2 linked regions of the Homo sapiens genome follow. The protein of the gene in region 1 purifies or fractionates together with the protein of each later gene. This does not show direct contact. Each region holds a gene or a part of one and is shown in the gene's direction. Other genes may lie near its edges. The genes, in order: CFH and KLHL18.

Region 1 (11,736 bases):
TATTTATCAACGAAACAAGATAGAAAGCCCAGAAATAAACCCATGCATTTACGGCCAATTGATTTTCAATAAAGGTGCCAAGAACACACAATGAAGAAAGGACAGACTCATCAACAAATTGTATTGGGAAAATTGGGTATCTGTATGCAGAAGGATTAAATTGGATCTTTATCTTACACTAGATACAAAAATCAACTCAAAATGGATTAAAGACAAAAAACTGTAAAATTACTAGAAGAAATGAGTTAAAATCTCCACAATATTGCAATTTATTTTTATTTTTATTTTTTTAGTGTCTCTGAAAGCACAGGCAACAAAAGTGAAAATAGACAAATGGGATTTCATCAAACTAAAGAGCTTCTGTACAGCTATGGAAACAAATAACAGAATGAAGAGAAAGCCTATGGAATGGGAGAAAACATTTGTAAACCATACACTTGATAAGGAGTTAATGTCCAAAATATATAAGGAACTCTAAACAACTCAATAGCAAGAAAACAAATAACATAATTTAAAAATGGGCAAAGGAACTGATCAGACATTTCTCAAAAGAAAACATACAAATAACTAGCAGGTTCATGAAAAAAATACTCAACATCAATAACTATTAGGGAAATGCAAATTAAAACCACAATGAAATATCATAGAAACACAAAATATAGTAGGTATAGTCATTGTGTGATAAAGTCTTTGTTACCTTGAATTTCTACGTTTTTGTTGAATACTTTTTTGACTTTTCCTTCATATGACACCATTTTATAATATTTTCAGTGTACATAAAATAGAAAAAATAATTCAGTCTTTCTTTTAGTATGTTTGATTTAAATTTGTTTCTTGTTATGTGGAAATATTTGAAGTCATTTCAAGTTCACCACTTATGTCTAAACATTTTTAAGATTGTCATCAAATTTCGGAAAAAATCCTGTCAGATTTCCCTGACATAATAAGCTCCAAGGTTTCAGGACATTAAAAGAGTTCTAATGATATAATTAATATTAAATGTTCTTTAAATTGAAACATTGAAAACTAGTTTGACCTCAATGTCTTCATTTCAAAGGTGCGTTGTAAATTTTATGGTATTGTTATTGATGCCAATATATTGTGAATGACTTGAGCAAGTTTTCATTTTTACTAGGAGAAGAATCAATGAGAATGGAATCATCCACTTAAAATTTTACACAGCTGATCATAGTCTTTATACTTTTTAATCTTGTTTCTCCTTCACTACACATAGACTTCTGGTGTCGGGCATATTCATATGTGCTGTCTTCAGACACTGAAGTTTTGTGTTATGATGCAAATTGATTTGGCACAGGGGTGGTAGGAGTATTCCTGGAAGCCATTCTTACACTTGGAGGACCATCAGTTATCAAATTATATTTAATTGAGACTGTAAAATATACCACATAAATCTCAAACTAATAGCATTCTATGTGTAACTTTTTCTTGCATCCTTCAAATGCCTGAAACTGTAATGTCAACTGAATCAGTGGAAATGCAATGAAGGGGAAATCAGCATAGAATAAGAGAGACAGCCGTTCATTCTCTTGCAATTAAGAGATTAATTCTCTTCAATTTTTTACAAAAATAGATGACCATGCAGAAACGTTATTAAGGGCCAGCTCAGGTCCTTGATGGTGTCTGTTCAAATTAGGAGCCCTGAAGCTTAGACTTCATTAGCTTCATAGAAAAATCAAGCTCTGTTATAAATATTAGTTTTTACCCTTTTTCTTTACATTGAGATGCTGTGTAATAGTTGTATTATGAATTCATTCAGTAATTTATTTAATTTGTCATTTCTCTGAGTCCTTTTTCCTCCATCTATTTTAATACAACCGCCAAAGCACCATTACTTAAATAATGCATGACTTACATTTCTTCCTCAATTAGATCTATCAAAGATTCTTTATTGCCTGTAAAATAATTTGCAAGTTTTTGATCTGGAATTCAAACCATTCCTCATTTAAAGCTCCTTTTACTTCTTCCACAATTTCCTTGTGCAAAACCACTGCTCCAATGTGAGTCTTCTCATTAATTCTAGATTAGTCCCCACACTTTCCTATTCTTCACAGTCTCAGTGGTACTCTTCCCTTAAACTACAGTGTAATATCCAAGTGTTCTTAAAATCATCCCTGATCAAAACCAGTGTTCAGTAATTTCTCTTTCTTGTAAACTTCCTTCGAAAATTTTAATCATAACAGTCATTTGTTACTTAGCATAGATATTAACTATTTCTAATTTTTTAAATATGGATTTTTCTCTAATACAAATTTATATCCTTACTCTTCTAAATTTTTAATGTCCAAATATACATAGTATGTATTTGCTGAGAATGTGCCAACATGAATATTGAAAATAAATTGGATCCATTTCATGTTTAATCTTAGTATTAATAGTTAACTATTTACTATCTGGTCTTTCTAATGGTAATCTAATACTACATAATAATTTTATGAGTTTAAGGCATAATATGTTGCTAATTTTCTTATGTTCTGAATTTCTTTATAATAGACTTTTGTAGTTTTGAAAAGTATTGATGAAAAAAGGGAAACAAAAACACTCAATTGACGTTAGCCATCAGTCTTTGAAAAAAGGTAGGATAAAGAAAAAATAGTAAAAATAATACATCTGAAAGATATTTGTTGAAATTAATTCAAGAGGATTATTTCTACTTGGATAGTAGAGTGGCATTTTACATTCAACAATTGCAAATTAGGTGAAGATTTGTATAGCAAAATCATTCCTGTATGTACTTTAAATTATCCACAAACATATATATGTGTGTGTGTACCTTCAATACTTTTACAGTATATGCATAATTGTAAAATAAATAAATGTGAAGCATACACTAGAGTACATATGTGAATATTTTACTATATTTTTAAACACATATTTTAAACACAGACCACTGGATTTGATACCTGGCTCCAGCAATGTCTTGTGACCTTAAGGGAGTTGCTAAAATGTTCTGTGGTTCAGTTCAGTCATCTATACCTTTGAAAGAGTAATAGTCTCCCATTTCATTGTGTTGCATTAAGTATTGAATAAATGTGCTTAGATCTGTGCCTGGTATATAATTAACACTCAATAATATTAATCTTAGTAAGTTTCTGGAATACTCTCCAAGTGATAATATTGCTATTAGAATAGAAACCACTATTGGAAATTTAAGCCCCAGGTAAAATGTTTGGATTCATACTCAAACAGATAAAACTAAGGAAGGAATAAAGAAGAAGTTTAAATGATCTAGTATGTCAACATATGTGTTATCAGTTAAATCAAATTAAACTTCAGAATGATAGTTCAGAATTCGAATTTGCTTGATTATTCATATATCCATGCTATTTTATTTCTTATTTTTCTCAGAACAAATGACTAAGTCTAACTCTTATTCCTTATATTTTTATTACAAAAATAAAAATAAAAATAAAATAAAATGTAAAATTCACATTGGAAGCAAAATTAGAGTTAGGGTGGGCCATTTAATATGAGAAAATGACCAATGCAAAAGAAGGATATCACAATTCTAAATACGTATGCAAGCATCATCATAGCCCTAAAATATATAAAGATTCACAGCATTAAACAGGGAAATACACAAATCCACATTTATAATGGGAGATGTAATACACCCTTTCAATATCTGATGGAATAATCAGACAAAAACATAATAAAAATACAAAAGATTTTAACAAATTACAAACTTGACCTACTGACATAGGTAGAATTTTGACTATAATGGGCCATAAAGAAAGACTCATCAAATTTTAAAACAGTGTAATTATTTAGAATATGAAATTAAAAAAGAAATCAATTTAAAAGATAACTAGAAAGCCAAAGTTCCCAGAAATTTACACTTTAGAAAAGTTTTAAAAATAAACTATTACAGTAAGAAGAGCTTGGTGATATAGACCCACACATATCCAGCACCTGACTTATGACAAAGGTGAAAGCATGTCAGTACAGAGGAAAGAATGATACTTTCGTTGAATAATGCTATAACAATTGGATATCTCTATTTTAAAAATGCATCTGGAGCTTTTTATTATGCTATACACAAAAGACAATTACAGTTGTTCTAAAGGTCTTAAATGTGAAAGATAAAATAATTCTTTTAGAAGAAAAGCATTGTGTTCTAGGACTAGGCAAGCTTTCATTAAATAGGACACATAATGCACTAGTCATAGAAAAAAATTGAAAATTTGCTCTATTTTAAAATTAAGGAATTCTTTTTATTATTATAAAAGACATGTAATACTGAATAGAAAGAAAACCCACAGACTGGAAGAAGGTATTTATAATACATATTAATAAGATTATTTTCATATCTAGAATATATAAGTAATTATATATAAACAGTTCCTACACTCCAATAAGTCAAAGACAAACAACTCAATAAGAAAAAAATATGCAAAGGATTTGAATAGAACCTTTACCAAAGAGGGTATCTAAATGACCAGTTACCACAGGAAAGTTTCTCAACTTCATGTTAAGGGCAGGAGACAGGGAAATACTGGGTAGAAGAGGGTGGTCCCCAAGCAAAGGCCCCACCCTCAAGCCTGAAGACCTGTGGCCCTAAATGAGGACAGGCATTTCAGGTTTCACACCCAAAAAGTTGCCTTTTGGCCCGCCATGCCCCGCTGTCGTACCCCCATATAAATCCCAAACTCCAAGCTCCAGAAGAGACCTACAAGTGAGGAGACGGAGAGGCAAGCCGACAAACAGGCCTGCGATGGCAGAATGACACAGCAGAGAAAGAGAGGAGGGACATCTGGACTCCGAGGGGAGTTTGGCCAGGGACGGGTGGAGAAGAGTCTGGCCACTGGGAGGCCTGACACTGGGCGAAGGTCACCTTCCCACTCCATCTTGCTGACAGCCACCTCCACCACTCAATAAAAAGTTGCCCTCATCCCTCGAGCCCCCGTGTGATCCGATTCTTTTGGGACACTGGGCAACAGCTGGGGATATAGAGGGCTATTTCACTGTCCCACTACCCATGAGATAAGGAAGAGGGTTTGTTGAGCTGATTAACACATAAACCATTTGCAGATGGCAAAGCTAAAGGAGCACACTGTAACATACGCCCACTTGGGCTTCGGAAATCGCAGACACCCACCCCTAGATGCTGCTGTGAGGCCAGAGCCCGAAAGCGCTCACTCCGGTTCCCGCACCGGTGCATCTGTGTGCTCCCCCTCCCCGTAAGGGGTTTGAGCTGCAGGGCGACCTAACTGGCAAGCCGCACACCTGTTGCATGTCCTTCAAGGGGAATCAGGGATCTCTCACATTTCAATTAGTCATCAGGAAAATTCATATTATAACCACGGAGAATTATTGCTTTGTGTTACCAGAAAAGCTAAAATTACAAGGATTAAAATTACCAAGTATCTCTGAGGGTATGGAGCAACTTGGACACTGCTGATAGAAATGTCAAGTGATGTCAAGTGTTATAATCCATTTGGAAAATTGTCTAATTTTATCCATTACACCTAAACATAAATTATGTCCCAGTGTTTCACTACCAAGTATGCACTTACCAGAAATGTGGATTGTGTTTACCAAAAACCTCATAATATAAGGCCCATAGCAGCACTATTCATACCAGCTCCAAACTAAAATCTGCTCAAATGCTCACTAACAGGCACACAGATAAATAAAATGTGAACTATTCAAAAAGTGGAGTATTAAATCGCAATAAGAATGAACTATCTGTAACTACATCTAACAATGTGTTTGAATGGTCCAAACACAATTTTTGGTGAAAAACTCTAAACATAAGAATAAACTGCTTCTTTTTCATTATACAAAGTACAAAAGCCAGACAAATATATTCCATGTTCTTGAAGATCAGAATCGTGGTCTCTGTGTGTGGGGGGTGTGGGAGAGGGTTGAGAGGCGTATTGACTGAAAAGGAGTACTGGGGTTTTCTGGGATGTAATAATGTTCAGTGTTTTGACCTTGGTGGTGGTTTCACAGGTATCTTTACCTTCTCAATATCCAGCATATGATTTATGTTTTCCTTATACATATTACACTACAATACAAAGTTTTAAAAATCAGCATTTCAATTTGTTGATTTTTGGATTATTAAACCTATTTACGTCAAATGAGAGTGAGCCAGTTGCTTCATACACATATACAAAAAGTATTTAGAAAACTAATTTCATAAATTGCTAGAAAAGCAGACCCCCAAATTCATCAAGCACTGCATTCTTGGCAAAGTTTGTACACATTGTCTGGGTGCTGATTGTGAAAACATTGCCTAAACCAAAGTTTTGTATGTGATTTCTTTTAAAGTTTCTCTTATTTCCTGTTCTGAGGTTTATACACAATAGACCCGAATAGAGTTTGAATAATTGAAGGGTTTATGAAATCCAGAGGATATCACCAGCTGCTGATTTGCACATACCAAGAACATGAACATTTTCCAACGGAGAATTTCCCTAGCTTAATAAGAAAAAGTCCAAGAGCCGGTCACAGCATTAACATTTAGTGGGAGTGCAGTGAGAATTGGGTTTAACTTCTGGCATTTCTGGGCTTGTGGCTTGTGGTTGATTTTTTATTTACTTTGCAAAAGTTTCTGATAGGCGGAGCATCTAGTTTCAACTTCCTTTTGCAGCAAGTTCTTTCCTGCACTAATCACAATTCTTGGAAGAGGAGAACTGGACGTTGTGAACAGAGTTAGCTGGTAAATGTCCTCTTAAAAGATCCAAAAAATGAGACTTCTAGCAAAGATTATTTGCCTTATGTTATGGGCTATTTGTGTAGCAGAAGGTAAGATTAAAAGAGACTCTTTTCTGAAAACTGTATTATGAAACATTTGCTAATGATGCTTTTCACAGGAGTAATAAAAATTTGATTTAGAAAATGTGCTTAAGTATTCTGTAACTTGACAATTGAGTGGCTTTTGACATTGTTGAGTTTAAAAAATGTAAGAACCTTATTTGAATGGTATATCTAAATATTCATCATAATTATATTTAATATAAAATAGAATAAAATGTTTTAATAAACATTTCTGAAAAACTATGATCTGGAATAATCATTTCCCTTGTAATTATCATAAAATGTAATTTACTTTTTTGCTTAGGAGTATAACCAAAATGTATTATGTGAAAGCATTAAGAAGGATGTGAATATACATAGTCAATAAAAGCCATCAAATCATAATGATTAGATTTATTTCAAATATGATTTTAACTCTTCCTAAATAAAAATTCATTTATCATTTACAACTGATATTGTCATGACCTTAGAATTCTTGTAGACAAGTATTACTTGTATTATCAGAATAAAAATATTATATAAATTTGAAACCCAATTGAATATACAATATTTGTAACAGTTAAGTTGTTCAATAGAGATTTTTTTCCTGTAGTTGTATATAACATATATTCTTGAAGAGCAGTCTTTTGGAGTAGTGAATATGAATGTAGGAGTTTTTTTCTGACCTCAGTAAGACAATTTCTGGATTCATAATAAAATTTAATTATATCACTGCTTCTTGATAGATTAAAAAGCTTATTCTTGGAGGAGGTTTGCTTTCCTAGTTTTTGATAGGTAACCAGTTATGTGATAGATATTTGGTAAACATTTTTAAACTGAATGAATTACATATTATTCATAATTTCTAAAATCTTTTCACTTAGTAAAGAAATTTTGATTGAGTGACCATTACATAGCCTCTAGGAACTGAAGAATATTAGCAAATAATACAAATCTCTGTTTCAGTCTTCCAATCTAGAAAATAAAAGCAGATATATTCTTATAGTTATACACTTTGGTAATTTAAAAAATATTCAAATATGTTTAATACCTTTTGAAAGGTTGAATTATTTTCAGTTATATTTTCTAATGTTATTGCTTGTTCTTTGGCTTGTAAACTTTATATGTAGCCACTTTTTAAATGAAGAAAACAATTATTTCCTTGTACATATAAATATTATAATTAGTATTTTAAAATGAAACCTTTTTGTATTTACAAACAGTTCCAGAACAATGTCAATATTACCTATTGTAAAAGACATCTTTTTCTGTTTCTTTGTGTAAATATTTCTGTCTTTTCTTACTAAATTTATGGGAATGTTTCTAACGTTTCATACCTACATACTGTTTGCTCCAGTTTTACATAGATACCATTTGTCATATAAGGGAGATTTGTTTTATTTCTAATCTTTAAAATCAAGAATCAATGGCAAGTTTAATAAACAGTTTAAGTTATTAAAAAGTTGAATTTGAAATATTATTAAAATAGAGTACATCAAAGTATATGTGATAATTAAACAATAGTGATTTAAACATCTTATTTACATAATTGATTATTGCTGACTTGTTTCACTTTTATTTTATTTTTCATCAATGTGTGTTTAAATGTGGTATCAGTTTCTACTGGTGAATTGAACATCGGCACTATATATGTTATGGTGAAAATGATATAAATCTGATTATTTCCTAAAAGATAAAGCACAACTTTGTATTTAAAGCAATGCTTAGGCCAGCCTCATAATTTTCATAAAAGCACATGTAATGCAAAAGCCAATGGAGAAAAACTACATGAATTTTCAGTGGATATCAGACTCCTAATTTATTCCTTGTTTCCCAAATACTCTCTGAAACTAAACTAGTTCGAGATGTCCATCAGTTCTATTAATCTACCATATCTAAAAAATTTTTACTTAACAGAGTAGCTTTGATCATGAAAAATACTCACATATATTTCAATATTTGCTTCTGTTTATATTTTCCACATTGAATACTGAATACCAAATTGAGAAGATAGTTTGAATACTATCACAATCTGCTTTATTCAACAGCATAACATTTTAGCATTACTTCTGCTCTGTTAAGAGTGAACTTTCTTCAAAAAAAACACTATTCATTACTAAGAAAGAATTATAGCCAGCAGGAATAATTTGTAATTTCAGCTTTCTATTTGTTTTCTTTTTTTAATATATTGGGTACTACATAGAACCTTTCTAATGCAATATATTGTCTACAATAACATTTCCAATTGTGTAGGAACGTTAATTGCCTCCTTGTTTTAACAGTCTGGCTCAGGGGGTCACTGCAGGCTACTAAGAATTGGGTCAGATTTACAGGACAAAGTTTAAAATAACAGTTTCTCAATCGTACCACCTAATTTCACCTTTTTGAAATATAGTATGACCAAGGTTTTGAATATATTATGACCAAGCAGATTTTTTAGATTTAGGGTCTAACAATTGTGTACTATATGAAATTAGGCCACAGCCCAGAAATTCCAAGATGATTAAAGTGAATAAATTAAAACTCTACTGAAACATGTTCAAGTAAATACTGGCTGTGTTGTTTGGGAGACATGTTTTTTAATCCTGGAGATTTAGAGTGCAGAAACGTTATTTCAGGTCCCAGAAGACTTTATAGATCAGAGATTGATGGATTCCATTACAGTCAGAGAAAGGAGAATAGTGGTCTAAAATCCTAAATTGTATGTTTGAATTTCAGTGTGATAAATAAGAATTCCCCTTTGCTCCCCCAAACCCCCATATTTTCAGAGATAGTAGTATGTGTATTTATCTATATGGTGTGATTTAAATTGTGCGATGGCCCAATTGGCTTCAATATCTCATCTCCTCCTAAAATACTTTACGTGTTGATATTAATATTACTATAATTTCAACCAATCTGTCATTTACATGGAATGACAAATACACTGAATACATATTTTAGGATAGTTAAATTTAGTATTATTCATAATTTACTTTGAATTATTATCATCTGACAACTTCCCTGAAACAATTTCAGTGGGCGGGGGAGGGTAGAAATGGATGTTGATGAGGATAAGAATAGAACAAAGTGATTCTGGAAGATGGGGTTTTCCCAGGTAGGACAGATCTGCTGGTTGAAGTGCTATAGTGAGTGCTATAAGAGAAGGGGTAGAGAAAATGCCCACAGAAATGGCACGAGCCTGAGACGTCTGCCAAGGCAAGCTTTGCTTATTTTAAATTTAGGCATATCCTGGGAATGCATATGCTACTCTTTTGCCTACATATAATTTAAACTAAAAATGAAATATCTAAGTATTGCTAACTAAAATTATTCTTAGGTAGAAGTAAGTTCCCAAATATAAGTTCAAAAGCAGATTGGTAAATGTTCTTCATGTGTGGCCTTTGGTTTCTAAGATCTGAGCCAGTCTACATTGACCCACTTTTATTTGCTTAATCCTCGATTGTTTATTCTGCAGTCTTTTGCCACTTTTCATTCTTCCCAGTTATGCCTTCTCCTCCTCCCCACACACACCATCCCCCACCTGCCTAGGCCTTTGAGATTCTGCCACCCAATCTATCCCGTGCTCAGTTAACTAACGTGTACTTTACCCATTTCTTCACAAAACCATAGTACATGGAAAGGGGATGATGTAATTGACAAAAAAGTATTGCATTTTAGCTTAAAATTATAAGGAGTCATAAAAAGATAGCTCAGAGGAAATAAAGTAACTGAACATCAAAAAATGAAACAATAAAAAGGAAAGAAAAAACATTTGACAGAACACTTTTATTTCTTCTGACATTTTAACTTAGCCAAGTTTTTCATAAACCTTGTTAACTGGAAATGTAATAGATAGAAAAGTGATTATTCTTCCAGGCCGGGCATGGTGGCTCACACCTGTAATCCCAACACTTTGGGAGGCCCAGGTGGGTGGATCACCATGTCAGGAGTTCGAGACCAGCCTGACCAAAATGGTGAAACCCCATCTCTACTAAAAATACAAAAATTAGCCAGGCGTGGTGGCGCGTGCCTGTAATCTCAGCTACTCAGGAGGCTGAGGCAGGAGAATTGCTTGAATCAGGGAGGCGGAGGTTGCAGTGAGCTGAGATCATGCCATTGCCCTTCAGCTTGGGCGACAGAGGGAGATTCCATCTCAAAAAGAAAAAAAAAAAAAAGAAAGAAAGAAAGAAAGAAAAGGAAAAAGCAATATTCTTTCAGAAACTCCTGAACTGTAACATAAATTTAAGCTTAGGACACATAGGTCAGATGTACAATGGAATTACAAATGTTAGAGTTTCCTGGGTTCTTGCAACAGAGTTTTAAGTGCACTAAACAGTTATCACCTTGTCTTCTCTTATATTTTCTAGTCACTACTGTCTACTACGCTTTTTCCACAGGCTGTCCATAATCTACAGATATAATGGAAAGGCTTCCAGATAGTTTCATTGTTACTCATCTGTTCTTTCGCTCATTCATTTTTCCATCACTTTAACTTCCACAAGTACTACTTAGTAATACTTGGTACAATGTGTGTTGCGTTTTTTTTTTTTTTTCTCTATTTTCAGGGTCCTAATTGTACTGTCTCTTTGTGGCTGAGTTCGTTTTTTGTGACTGGAACAATAACTGGCATTAGAAATTAGCTATTCAAATACACATTTCAAGAAAGTTGTGGAATTTCAACCCATGTTCTGATAGTATCTTGTTTTATCTCTAATTATGACATACTTGTTATTCTATCCAACTTCATGTGACTATCGTCTATTCTCCTATCTGCTTTTTATGGTTCTGGAATTTTCTTCTTGCTCTTTTCACTGTTAAGTTGTTTGTTTGTTTGTTTGTTTGTTTTGAGACAGGATCTCGCTTTGTTGCCTGAGGCTGGAGTGCCCACGCTGGAGTGCAGTGGTGCGATCATAGTTCACTGCAGCTTCCAACACCTGGGCTCAAGCAATCCTCCTGCCTCAGCCTCCCACACCTAGCTAAATTTTTTTCTTT
Region 2 (11,701 bases), on another chromosome or scaffold:
TTTTTTTTGAGATGGAGTCTCACTCTGTCACCCAGGCTGGAGTGCAGTTTCGTGATCTCGGCTCACTGCCACCTCTGCCTCCCGAGCTCAAGCATTCTCCTGCCTCAGCCTCCGGAGTAGCAGGATTACAGGTGCCTGCCACCATGCCCGGCTAATTTTTGTATTTTTATTTATTTATTTATTTTTGAGACAGAGTCTTGCTCTGTCGCCCAGGCAGGAATGCAGTGGCATGATCTCAGCTCACTGCAACCACCACCTCCCAGGTTCAAGCGATTCTCCTGCCTCAGCCTCCGGAGCAGCTGGGGCTACAGGCGTGTGCCACCACACCCAGCTAATTTTTGTATTTTTAGTAGAGATGGGGTTTCACCATGTTGGCCAGGCTGGTCTTGATCTCCTGACCTCAAGTGATCTGCCCACCTCGGCCTCCCAAAGTGCTGAGATTACAGGTGTGAGTCACCACACCCAGCCTTGGAGCTGTGTATTTTCTGAAATTCTCTCAGAGGTAGATTGGTACACCAAATGCGTCAATGAACCACGTCAGTAACCTGTTTAATTCAAGTCACCGCTTCCTGCCTCTGATAAAGCATTATGTCTTATGCTGTCTTCTTGCTTCCAAAGTCAAGCTGTGTCAGCAAGGAAGAAGGTTGTGATGTGGCTAATGAAAGACGTGGGTCTCCATCAACCCTGTAGCTGTAGGTTTATTTTCCCTCATATCTCCCTCCTCCTCTTGCATGGGCCCCTTTCCTGTGTGGCCGCTCTCCTTCCTTTTCCCCCACTAATTGCCTCACAAACAGGCTCCCCACGTCCCCCATCCTCTTGGATGTAAAAGCCCAGTTCAGTTAAGAAGGTGTGTTTTGGCTGGGTACGTTGACTCACGCCTGTAATCCCAACACTCTGGGAGGCCGAGGCAGGGTGGATCACCTGAGGTCGGGAGTTCGAGACCAGCCTGGCCAACATAGTGAAACCCCATCTCTACTAAAAATACAAAAAACTTAGCTGGCTATGGTTGCAGGCACCTGTAATCCCAGCTACTCGGGAGGGTGAGGCAGGAGAATCGCTTGAACCTGGGAAGTGGAGGTTGCGGTGAGCCGAGATCGTGCCATTGCACTCCAGCCTGGGCAACAAGAGCGAAGCTACATCTCAAAAAAAAAGAAAAAAAAAAAGGAAGGTGTGTTTTGGCCGGGCGTGGTGGCTCACGCTTGTTATCCTGGCACTTTTGGAGGCCGAGGCAGGCAGATCGCCTGAGGTCAGTAGTTGGAGACCAGCCTGGCCAACATGGTGAAATGCCATCTCTACTAAAAATACAAAAATGAGCCGGCCGTGGTGGCGCACGCCTGTAATCCCAGCTACTTGGGAGGCTGAGCCAGGAGAATCACTTGAACCCAGGAGGCAGAGGTTGCAGTGAGCTGAGATCATGCCGCTGCACTCTAGCCTCGGCAACACCAGGAGACTCCGTCTCAAAAAAAACAAAAGGGAAAAAAAAAGGTGTGTTTTGTGCTCAGTATTATGCCAAGCTAATCAAAGACACCCAAAAATAAGGTACGAGAATCCTAACCTGAGAAGGAGAGTTTGGAAATGAATGCCAATGGCTACGTTGATCATTGGCTCCCATATCCTTGGACTTGATCCAGCTTCTGCCCCGTGGCATTTTGAATCCTCCTCTCAGGTTGATGTCAAAGTGTTAGGAAATAGTGAAGCACATGCTGTAGAGGCCCAGGGAAGGTTTATCTTTATATCTGCCTTATATTTGTAAAGTGCTTTAACAAGTCTCATTCAATCACTATAAGTGCTTTAGGAGAAAGGCATTTGACAGATGACTGAGCTGACATTCTGACCTTCAGCGCTGTATTCCTCAGTGGCCATGAACTTTGCCTACATCTTGCTCTCTGCTTATGTTTCTGTGCTCTTCTAAATTCACATCAGTTTCCAAAGCAATGGACAGAGCAAGCTCAGGCTGGAATGAAATAACTATGTAGAATTTTGACTAGTCATAAAGCCAGGCTCCAAGGTACCTTGCCCATTCATTCAGTCCTTGATGGGTCAACTGCTAGGGGACAATAGTGAATATTGCTAAATAAATATAACCCTGTGCCTAAAACCTTAACGTCGGGGAAAAGACATAAACCTTTCTAATGAAGAAAAGCATGCCCGGCCAATTTTTAATCTGATCAATACCATCCCTACAGAGAATCAGTCATGGAGCCAAATAAGAATCCCCCAGGGTCTGCTGCTGTCACCAAGATTTTAGAATCGCACTGGGCTCGTTTGGAATTTTCTTAGATGCAACAGTAGTAAGAAAAACAAGCTGGGCACAGTGGCTCATGCCTGTAATCCCAGCACTTTGGGAGGCCAAGGCAGGAGGATTGCTCGAGCCTAGGAGTTTGAGACCAGTCTGGGCAACATAGGGAGATGCTTTCTCTACCAAAAAACACTTTTTTTTTTTTTTTTTAATTAGCTAGGTGTGTGGTTTCAGCTACTTGGCAGGTTGAGGTAGGAGGATCACTTGAGCTCAAGAGGTCAAGGCTATCATGAGCCATAATTGCACCACTACACTACAGCCTAGGTGACAGAATAAGACCTTGTCTCAAAAAACAAAAACAACCATAATAAAAAATTAAGACAGCCATTAACTTCATACCAGGTACCATGTATCATGGCTCAGCCCTAAGAGGTGGGTAGCTGTTGTCATCATCTTCTTTCAGGTGAGCAAATTACTGACACTTGGAAGAACATAACCCACCCAAGTTGCCCCATGAGCATCAGGGCCAGGATTTATCCTGGGTTTCTCTAGCCCTGATGAGTGTAAGTCTGCCAGGCTACCGTGGGAATGTGCACAAGAGTCCTGATTTCAATCTCAGCACCACCACTTGCTTATCTCAAGGGACTGTGAGCACCATTTTTGGTTTCCCTGAGCCTGTTTTCCATCTGTGAGTGCGTTACTACTTTACAGGTTAAGAAGATTCTGGAGAATGTGTATAAAAGGCCTAGCAAAACACTTGACTCACTGATGGTAAATAAATGATAGCTGCTGCTGTTGTTTCTGCTTGTCTGAACAATTAGGCCCGTGGAGTCTCTTTCTATCTAAAACAAGAAAAAATCTCAGCATTTTGGGAGGCCGAGGCAGGTGGGTTGCTGGAGTTCAGGAGTTCAAACCTGCCTGGACAACATGGTGAATCCCTGTCTCTACCACAAAAAGTACAAAAATTAGCCAGGCATGGTGGCACCTGTAGTCCCAGCTACTTGCAGGGCTGAGGCAGGAGGATCGCTTGAGCCCAGGAAGTCAAGGGTGATGTGAGCCGTGTTCACGCTACTGCACTCCAGCCTGGGGGACAAAGTGAGACCCTGTCTCAAAAAAGAAAAAAAAGGAAAAAAAAAGACAAGTATAAGAGTTCCCATACTAAAGAAGCCATCTGTCCGTGTTGTGTTTTTTTTGTTGTTGTTTTGTTTGTTTTTTGTTTTTTGTTTTGAGACGGAGTCTTGCTCTGTCGCCCAGGCTGGAGTGCAGTGGCGCAGTCTCGGCTCACTGCAAGCTCCGCCTCCTGGGTTCACAGCATTCTCCTGCCTCAGCCTCCCAAGTAGCTGGGACTACAGGCGCCCGCCACCACACCCGGCTAATTTTTTGTATTTTTAGTAGAGACGGGGTTTCACCGTGTCAGCCAGGATGGTCTTGATCTCGTGACCTCGTGATCTGCCTGCCTCAGCCTCCCAAAGTGCTGGGATTACAGGCGTGAGCCACCGTGTCCAGCCCTGTCTGTGTTTTTTAAACTCTAATTCTGTGACTTCAGTGCCTTCCTTGTGACCAAAGTTGAGATAATGCCCTGGACACTCAACCAGGAATTTCAGTGGTGGAACGTCTCAAACAGATTTTCAGTGCCTGCACTCCTGTGATGGTTACTTCTCACCTTCTGACAGTTACTTTACAGAACTACCCAGAGAGCTCATTCCACCTGACGCACAGAGCACCAGGCCCAAAAGGCAGGGACCTTTGAGGATAATCTTTCTTCTTAATTTTATACCTTTAGAAGTTGAGTCCCAGAGAAATACAGTTTCCAACAAAGCTGAGGTTAAGAATTTGTTTTCATTCTGTGGCTCTACCCAGAACCAGCCTGAGAATGATCAAAGATAACATCCTTTCTTCCTCTAATTTTTTTTTTCTTTCCTTATGCCAAAGGCTTCACCCAAAAAACTGCCTGGGTGTGCGCCAGTTTGCTGAGACAATGATGTGTGCTGTGCTGTACGACGCTGCCAACAGCTTCATCCACCAGCACTTTGTGGAGGTGTCCATGTCAGAAGAGTTCCTGGCCCTGCCCTTGGAAGACGTGCTTGAGCTGGTGTCTCGGGATGAGCTGAATGTCAAATCTGAGGAGCAGGTATGTGAGCCCAGTAGCAGTCTGTGCAGGTGACATGAGATGCTGCTCTTTATAGTCATTGTTTTGTTTATGTATTTTTTTACAAAGTTAAGATCATGACATGTATGTGGCTGTTGTATATTATTGGGCTTGTTTTACTGTATCATGCATTTTTCATGAAAACTTTCTATGTTTTATTTATTTTTTTGAGATAATATCTTGCTCTGTCACCTAGGCTGGAGTGCAGTAGCAAGATCATAGCTTACTGCAGCCTCATCCTCCCACATCAGCCTCCCGAGTAGCTGGAACTACAGGCACATACCACCACACCCAGCTAGTTTTTGTATTTTTTGTAGAGACCGGGTTTCACCATGTTGCCCAGGCTAGTCTTGAACTACTGTCCTTAAGTGAGTTCAGCCTCCCAAAGTGCTGGGATTATAGGCGTGAGCCACCGCACCTGGCCTCCATACATTTTAGTGTCTAAATAGCATTCTGTTGATTTTTGTCAACCTACTCACCTTATTCTTGCATGTTTGGGTTATTTCCAATATTTACTATTAGAAATAATCCTCCTGTGAACCAGAAACAGCAAGCATAGATAATTTTTTTGTTGTTTTTTTGAGTCAGAGTCTCATTCTGTCACCCAAGCTGGAGTGCAGTGGTGCGATCTTGGCTCACTGCAACCTCCATCTCCCAGGTTCAAGCAATTCTCCCGCATCAACCTCCTTGAGTAGCTGGGATTACAGGCATGCACCACCATGCCAGGCTAATTTTTATACTTTCAGTAGAGACGGGGTTTCACCATGTTGGCGAGGCTGGTCTCGAATTCCTGACCTCAAGTGACCCGCCCATCTTGGCCTCCCAAAGTGCTGGGTTTACAGGCGTGAGCCACTGTGCCCGGCCTAGTATAGATAACTTTTTGAAAGAATCTTGTTCTAAGGAAGAACAGAACATTGGGGCAGCTGTGGGAGGGGTCTGTGAAATCAAGAGGGGTTGTTGTTTGTTTGTTTTTGAGAAAGAATCTTGCTCCAACGCCCAGGCAGGCTGGAGTGCAGTGGCAACAATCTCAGCTCACTGCACCTCTGCCTCCCGGGTTCAAGCAATTCTCCTGCTTCAGCCTCCCAAGTAGCTGGGATTACAGGTGCCCGCTACCATGCCTGGCTAATTTTTATATTTTTAGTAGAGATGGGGTTTCACCACGTTGGCCAGGCTGGTCTTGAACTCTGGCCTCACATGATCCTCTCACCTTGGCCTCCCAAAGTGCTGGGATTATAAGCATGAGCCATCATGCCAGGCCTTTTTTTTTTTTTTTTTTTTTTTGTGAGACAGAGTCTCACTCTGTCACCCAGGCTGGAGTGCGATGGCACAATCTCAGCTCACTGCAGCCTCAGCCTCCCAGGTTCAAGCATTTCTCCTGCCTCAGCTTCCCAAGTAGCTGGGATTACAGGTGTGCGCCATCATGCCTGGCTAACTTTTGTATTTTTAGTAGAGACGGGGTTTCACTATGTTGGCCAGGCTGTTCTCGAACTCCTGACCTCAGATGATCTGCCCACCTCGGCCTCCCAAAGTGCTGGGATTACAGGCGTGAGCCACTGCGCCAGGCCCGACCTTTTTTTTTTTTTTTTAAAGTGAGAGAAATTACAGCATATTTGACTGCTGTTGGGAGTTTTCCAGAAGAGAGGGAAGAATTGATAATATTGGAGAAATGGGAGAGCAGTTGTTGGAATGATGTTCTGGAATAAGTGAGGACAGTCTAGGGCATAAGGGTGTGCATCTTTGATAGGAGCACAAGCCATCCATATCCACAGTAGCAGGAGGGAGAGCTGGGGCACACGCCCAGGGACGGGGGACAGGTAGATTCTTACTGAAATTCTCTTCTGATTTTCTATTTTCTCACCTGAGAGTGAGGATGAGGGACGAAGGTTAGAAACTTAAGGAAGGCCGGGAGCAGTGGCTCACGCCTGTAATCCCAGCACTTTGGGAGGCCAAGGTGGGCAGATTTGTTGAGCTCAGGAGTTTGAGACCAGCCTGGGCAACATGGCAAAACCCCATCTCTACTAAAAGCACAGAAGTTAGCCAGGCCTGGTCCAGCTTAAACTCCTGGCCTGTAATCCCAGCTACTTGGGCTGAGGTGGGAGGATTGCTTGAGCTGGGAGGCAGAGGTTGAGGTGAGCTGAGATTGCGCCACTGCACTCCAGCCTGGGCGATGGGGCAAGACCCTATCTCCAAAAAAAAAGAAAGAAAGAAAGAAAAGAAAAAAGAAATTTGAGGAGGGATTAAAAGGTATGATTTATTTTCCTCTTTCCTCTAGAAAAGGGGGATGCTAGAGAGGTGAAGCGGGCTTGATAGGAGCCTGGGAGAAAAGTGGATCCTGGGCTTGGCAGCATAGACACTGTGGTTTCGAGGAAAAAGCCTCATTCCAAAAACTAGGTGTCCTGTCCCTAGCTCTTAAACTAATTAATATGACGGGGGGCGGGGGGGCAGCTCACATTTCTTTGAGTGATACATTTCATAAGGGCTGTAGGGCTTTAGAGGGAGAGGTCCTTGTGGTTGGAGCCATTAAGAAAGGCTCCTTGGAGAACATGGATCTAGAGCCAGGCCTTAAAAATAGGGGAGTGGGTTTAGATGAAGAGGAGGAGATGAGGGCATTTTAGATGAGGGGGGACAGTGTAAACAGGAGAACCAGCCCAGCCTTGCCGGAGTACAGAGAGGGTGATGGAGGGAGTTTAGAGGGAGCAGGGGTACAGGAGCAGCGGGAAGGGAAACAGGCATTTTGTTTTCACAGAAAGTAATAAGATGCCATTGATGATTTTTCACTAGGAAATCATAATCATAATGAAATTCAGGAAGCTGTTCTAGTAGCCTAGGAAGTAGAGAGAAATCAGGGATTTCAGAGACAAGTAGGAGAAAAGATTGATGGGCCCAAGGGACTGCTTCAGTATAGGAAGTGGAGGCATTGAGATTGGAGGCCTGGGGTGTGGCCTCTGGGTGGGAGGATTTGCTGCCAGAACATCCACTCTCATGACAGGTCTTTGAAGCTGCATTGGCCTGGGTCAGATACGACCGGGAGCAGAGGGGTCCCTACCTGCCTGAGCTGCTGTCCAATATCCGCCTGCCCCTCTGTCGGCCCCAGTTCCTTTCAGACAGAGTACAGCAGGATGACCTGGTGCGTTGCTGCCACAAATGCAGGTGAGTGAGGGTGGACCTGCACAGGACACTGCCAAAGGTCTAAGCAGGGAAGAGGAGTTGGCCACCTGTTCCAGTTCTGGAAAGAAAGCATTTAGAGTGATCAGTCTAATTCATGGCACACAGATTGGTCTGCCCTCTGTCTAGAAGCTGGAACAGGAAGTGTGAAGAGCCCGAATCTTATGCCTTGGGCAGAGAGATGTGCCATGTGGGAGCATCAAAGCAGAAAGGGCTTTCCCCTGCTGAGTTATCTGAGGATTTTCCAGCATCTTTCCCCACTGAGCTATTTATGAATGTGCAACCATCTTTACTGCCTGCTCTGACCCTGTCCACACCAGCAGCTCACTCAGTGGCGCAAATGGGACTTCCTGGGGCTCATTGCCCTCTTCAGTAAATATTAGTCAGTGCTGTGGGCATGGAGGGCCTCTGCCAGGTGTAGGCTTTACATCTACGATGATGGGCAAGGGGCAGACATGTTTACCAACACATGAAACTTTTACCCAGAGCAAATCAATGACAACATGGTACAGCAGAGTTACCCAAACAGTTCAGAAGATGGCAGCCCTATAGGATGATTGCTGTAAAAGTAGAACAGCAGAGAAAAATGTTCATTCTCCTCCAGATTGCTTATCAAATTCACAACCCTGAAATATTTTTTTCTCCTTTGCTGATAAAAACTTTACACACATTCAGCTTTCTTTCATTTTCCAACTCCTGGTTGGGATCAGCTGGTTCAGGAGGAAGTAAGTGCCTGTCCATGGCAGATGGTGTGAAGGTGTGTGTCAGGATGGGGTGGAGTAGTGTCTGGAGGTAGCTAGGGCCCAGTGACCAGCGGTCTCAAGGGTGCTGTTGAGGAGTTTGGACTTTATTCTGTCGGCAGTGGGTGGCTATTGAAGGTTCTTAGCTTGAACTCTAGTGTGGAAGTGGAATGGAGGGGCAGGCCTGAGGCAGGGAAATGTGTCAGGAGCTGCCACCGTGGAGATGAGTGGTGATTAATTGCAGGTTGCAAGCCACGGTGCAGTCGTAGGGATGGAAAGGAAGGGCTAGGTCTGAGTGGCAACAGGGTGCATGCTGCTTGTCGAAACTCCCAGGTCCAGCCATTTTGGCCACTACCTTGTTTTTCTCATGCCTAATCTACACTAGCTGAGGTGGTCTTTGCTTGTCTTGCCCCTTTAATTTTGAGTATATCTCAGTAGCCATGTATGATTTTCCCAGAACTCACCTGGTTTCTTTGAGACCAGACCTTCCAGAAGGCTTCTCCTCCCAGGTTTCCCCTGCAGTTGGCAGTGGAGAGCCAGGCTCAGAGATGCAAACGAGGACTAAGTCAGGGGGATACCTCCTGTTCTAGCATCTTCCACCTTATTCTAGGGACCTGGTAGACGAAGCAAAGGACTACCACCTCATGCCAGAGCGCCGGCCCCACCTGCCAGCTTTCAGAACCCGGCCACGCTGCTGCACATCCATCGCTGGACTTATCTACGCTGTAGGGGGCCTCAACTCAGCAGGTACCTTGCGGCTCCCCTTTATAGACCCTCCTCTTGGACTCCATGGATGAGGAAGCACCAGACAAATTAGCCTGGCCCTTCTGGTTTCTCTGTTTTGTACTGTCACCACCCTTGCCCCTCTTGATTTTATACAATTGCTCTACAGTTAGAGCATGTCACATATTCATGCCATTGAATCAGAATATCAGTGCTAAAGAGACCTTCTAGAAATCTTTGAGGCCTAGCCTTCTTACCTGACAAGTGAGGAAATTGAGCCCCACAGAACTTTCACTATGTTCATACAATTGTTTTTGGCAGAGCAAGGACTAGAACTTGGGTGTTCTGATTCCTGAGCCAGCACTTTTGCCCTAATATCACATTGGCTATGGTATAGCATCCTTCAGCCCCGGATAGGATACAGTCAGAGACCCAGTTCCATACCAGGCTATTCACATTTTGTCATATGGATCTCTGGGGTTAGACTGAGAAAGTCCCCAAGAGAAAGATTATCCAAATACACAGGGTCTACCACTGTCAATAATACTTTTTACTCTTCAGCCCCACCCCCTGTGAAACACACACATGCTTTACAGTCCGTGGGTTATTGGCAGTTTTTGAATCTAAGAGTAAGGTTTTCAGAAAGCTGCATGGCCTCCCAACTTGGGGGCAGTTGGTGGGCACTCCCAGGCAGTTTTGTTTTTATTTTTTATTGTTTTTAATTTTTTTGAGATGGAGTGTCACTCTTGTCACTCAGGCTGGAGTGCAGTGGCGCAATCTCAGCTCACTGCAACCTCTGCCTCCCGGGTTCAAGCAATTCTCCCGCCTTAGCCTCCTGAGTAGCTGAGACTACAAGCTCATGCTACCACGCCCAGCTAATTTTTCTATTTTTAGTAGAGATGGGGTTTCACCATGTTGGCCAGGCTGGTTTTGAGTTCCTGACCTCAAGTGATCTGCCCACCTTGGCCTCCCAAAGTGCTGGGATTACAGGTGTGAGCCACCGCACCTGGCCCAGTTTTGTTTTTAATTGAAGGTTAATGAGAGTTGGGTACTAGCTGCTGCTTGTTAATCAGAGGGCCTGGAACAGGTAAATCCTCAACTCAGTGCACGCTGGAGCGGCGTGCAAATGAAATGCTAAGTGCCCCATAGCAGCATACCACAGGAAGAGGGGGTTATTTTGTTTGATCATCACAAAAACCTGATGAAAAAGGTAGGGCTGGAATGATCATTCCTTGCTACTATGACTATTTATTGAGCGCAAAGTTTATTCTAGAACCATGCTAGGTGCTTTACCTGTTATATCATTTAATCCATAAAGATTATCTCCATTTCACATGTGAAGCAGAGGGTGGGGACACAAAGCCCCTTGCCTTGGGTCACCCCCTAGCAAATGAAAGCACTGGAGCGCATGCCCGTCCCTCTGGCATGCCTCCTGCCTGGAGGAAATATTGTATCGATTCACCTATACCTTTGGCTTTAAGCAGGTGGAGTACCTGATTGTAACTGAAAACTACCCTCTCTAAAAAATAAATACCTCCTGTCTGATTCTGATTTTCCTTAAAGAATTAGGTTTGAGGTGATCATGGCTGAAATTTCTTAGTGGGCCCTTGTGCCTTGAGTAATTCTGTGGGAAGAGCTAATAGAATTGAGTCGAATGTTCCATATAATCAATGCCCAATAGCTGTGCTCTAAACAAGTGGTCTCATTTGTTTTAATTTGAGTAGCAAATTTTTATGCAGGTGATTCCCTGAATGTGGTGGAAGTGTTCGACCCCATTGCCAATTGCTGGGAGAGATGCCGTCCCATGACAACAGCCCGCAGCCGCGTTGGCGTGGCTGTGGTGAACGGGCTTCTCTATGCCATCGGAGGATATGACGGCCAGCTACGGCTGAGCACTGTGGAGGCCTACAACCCGGAGACAGACACATGGACCAGAGTGGGGAGCATGAATAGCAAGAGAAGGTATTCTGGAAGCCACGTGCAGCCCGAACATACACACTGAGCACCTGGGGAGCGCCATGCTAGACGAGCAGGGGCACACAGTAGAGTAAAATACAAGCTTTGGCCTGGGAGTTTCCTGCAGCCAGGCCAGCCACTGCCAGTACCTCCTGGGAGCGAGCCCCCATCTGCTTAAAAGTAAAATATCCACCTTGTCCTTTGGGGAACTTGGGGAGACCAGGCATGGACATGTGGAAGTTGTGTTGTTATTTTAAGTGCCAGATAAGGACTGGAAATGTGTATTATGGAAGATTCGAAGAGGGAGAGAAACTGGACTGGAACTTCTGGAAGATTTCAGGGAAGAGGTGGGATTAAAGTTGAAACTTGAAGAATAAGGAGGATTTACCTTTATTAGTGATAAAAGGAAATCCAAGGTGTTTTTCTGTGTACCTTCCTTCCCCAGGACTCCCCTCACACATGCACTTCCACTACCTGGGGAGAATACGAACCAAAGCAATGTTCTTTTATTTAGGTCACACACATTCTCCCAGACAGGAGCACATAGGTATTTGCAAGGTGGGCCAAGTTGATATGTCACTCAGTACATTCTAGCTACCTGCTCTCTCCACTTCTCTGCTTATATTGTCTGAATAAGAAGTGGGATTAGAAGACATCCCAGTGCCTTTGTTTAGCCCTTCTTACTGCTGAGGTGACAGGTGGCATGTTTCATTATGTCAGACACGTGAT

What was found.
Region 2: the proteins of CFH (region 1) and KLHL18 purify together in Homo sapiens (affinity purification with mass spectrometry; 2 studies listed by BioGRID and IntAct, with this or other methods). This does not show direct contact.

What each region holds. Positions count from the first base shown.
Region 1 is NC_000001.11:196,645,405-196,657,140, forward strand, and holds the start of CFH (complement factor H isoform a precursor), read left to right. Parts: upstream 1-6,638; 5' UTR 6,639-6,713; coding exon 6,714-6,771; intron 6,772-11,736. UniProt on the Homo sapiens protein: Glycoprotein that plays an essential role in maintaining a well-balanced immune response by modulating complement activation.
Region 2 is NC_000003.12:47,325,780-47,337,480, forward strand, and holds part of KLHL18 (kelch-like protein 18), read left to right. Parts: intron 1-4,171; coding exon 4,172-4,370; intron 4,371-7,377; coding exon 7,378-7,538; intron 7,539-8,903; coding exon 8,904-9,040; intron 9,041-10,740; coding exon of another isoform or gene 10,741-10,755; coding exon 10,756-10,978; intron 10,979-11,701. UniProt on the Homo sapiens protein: Substrate-specific adapter of a BCR (BTB-CUL3-RBX1) E3 ubiquitin-protein ligase complex required for mitotic progression and cytokinesis.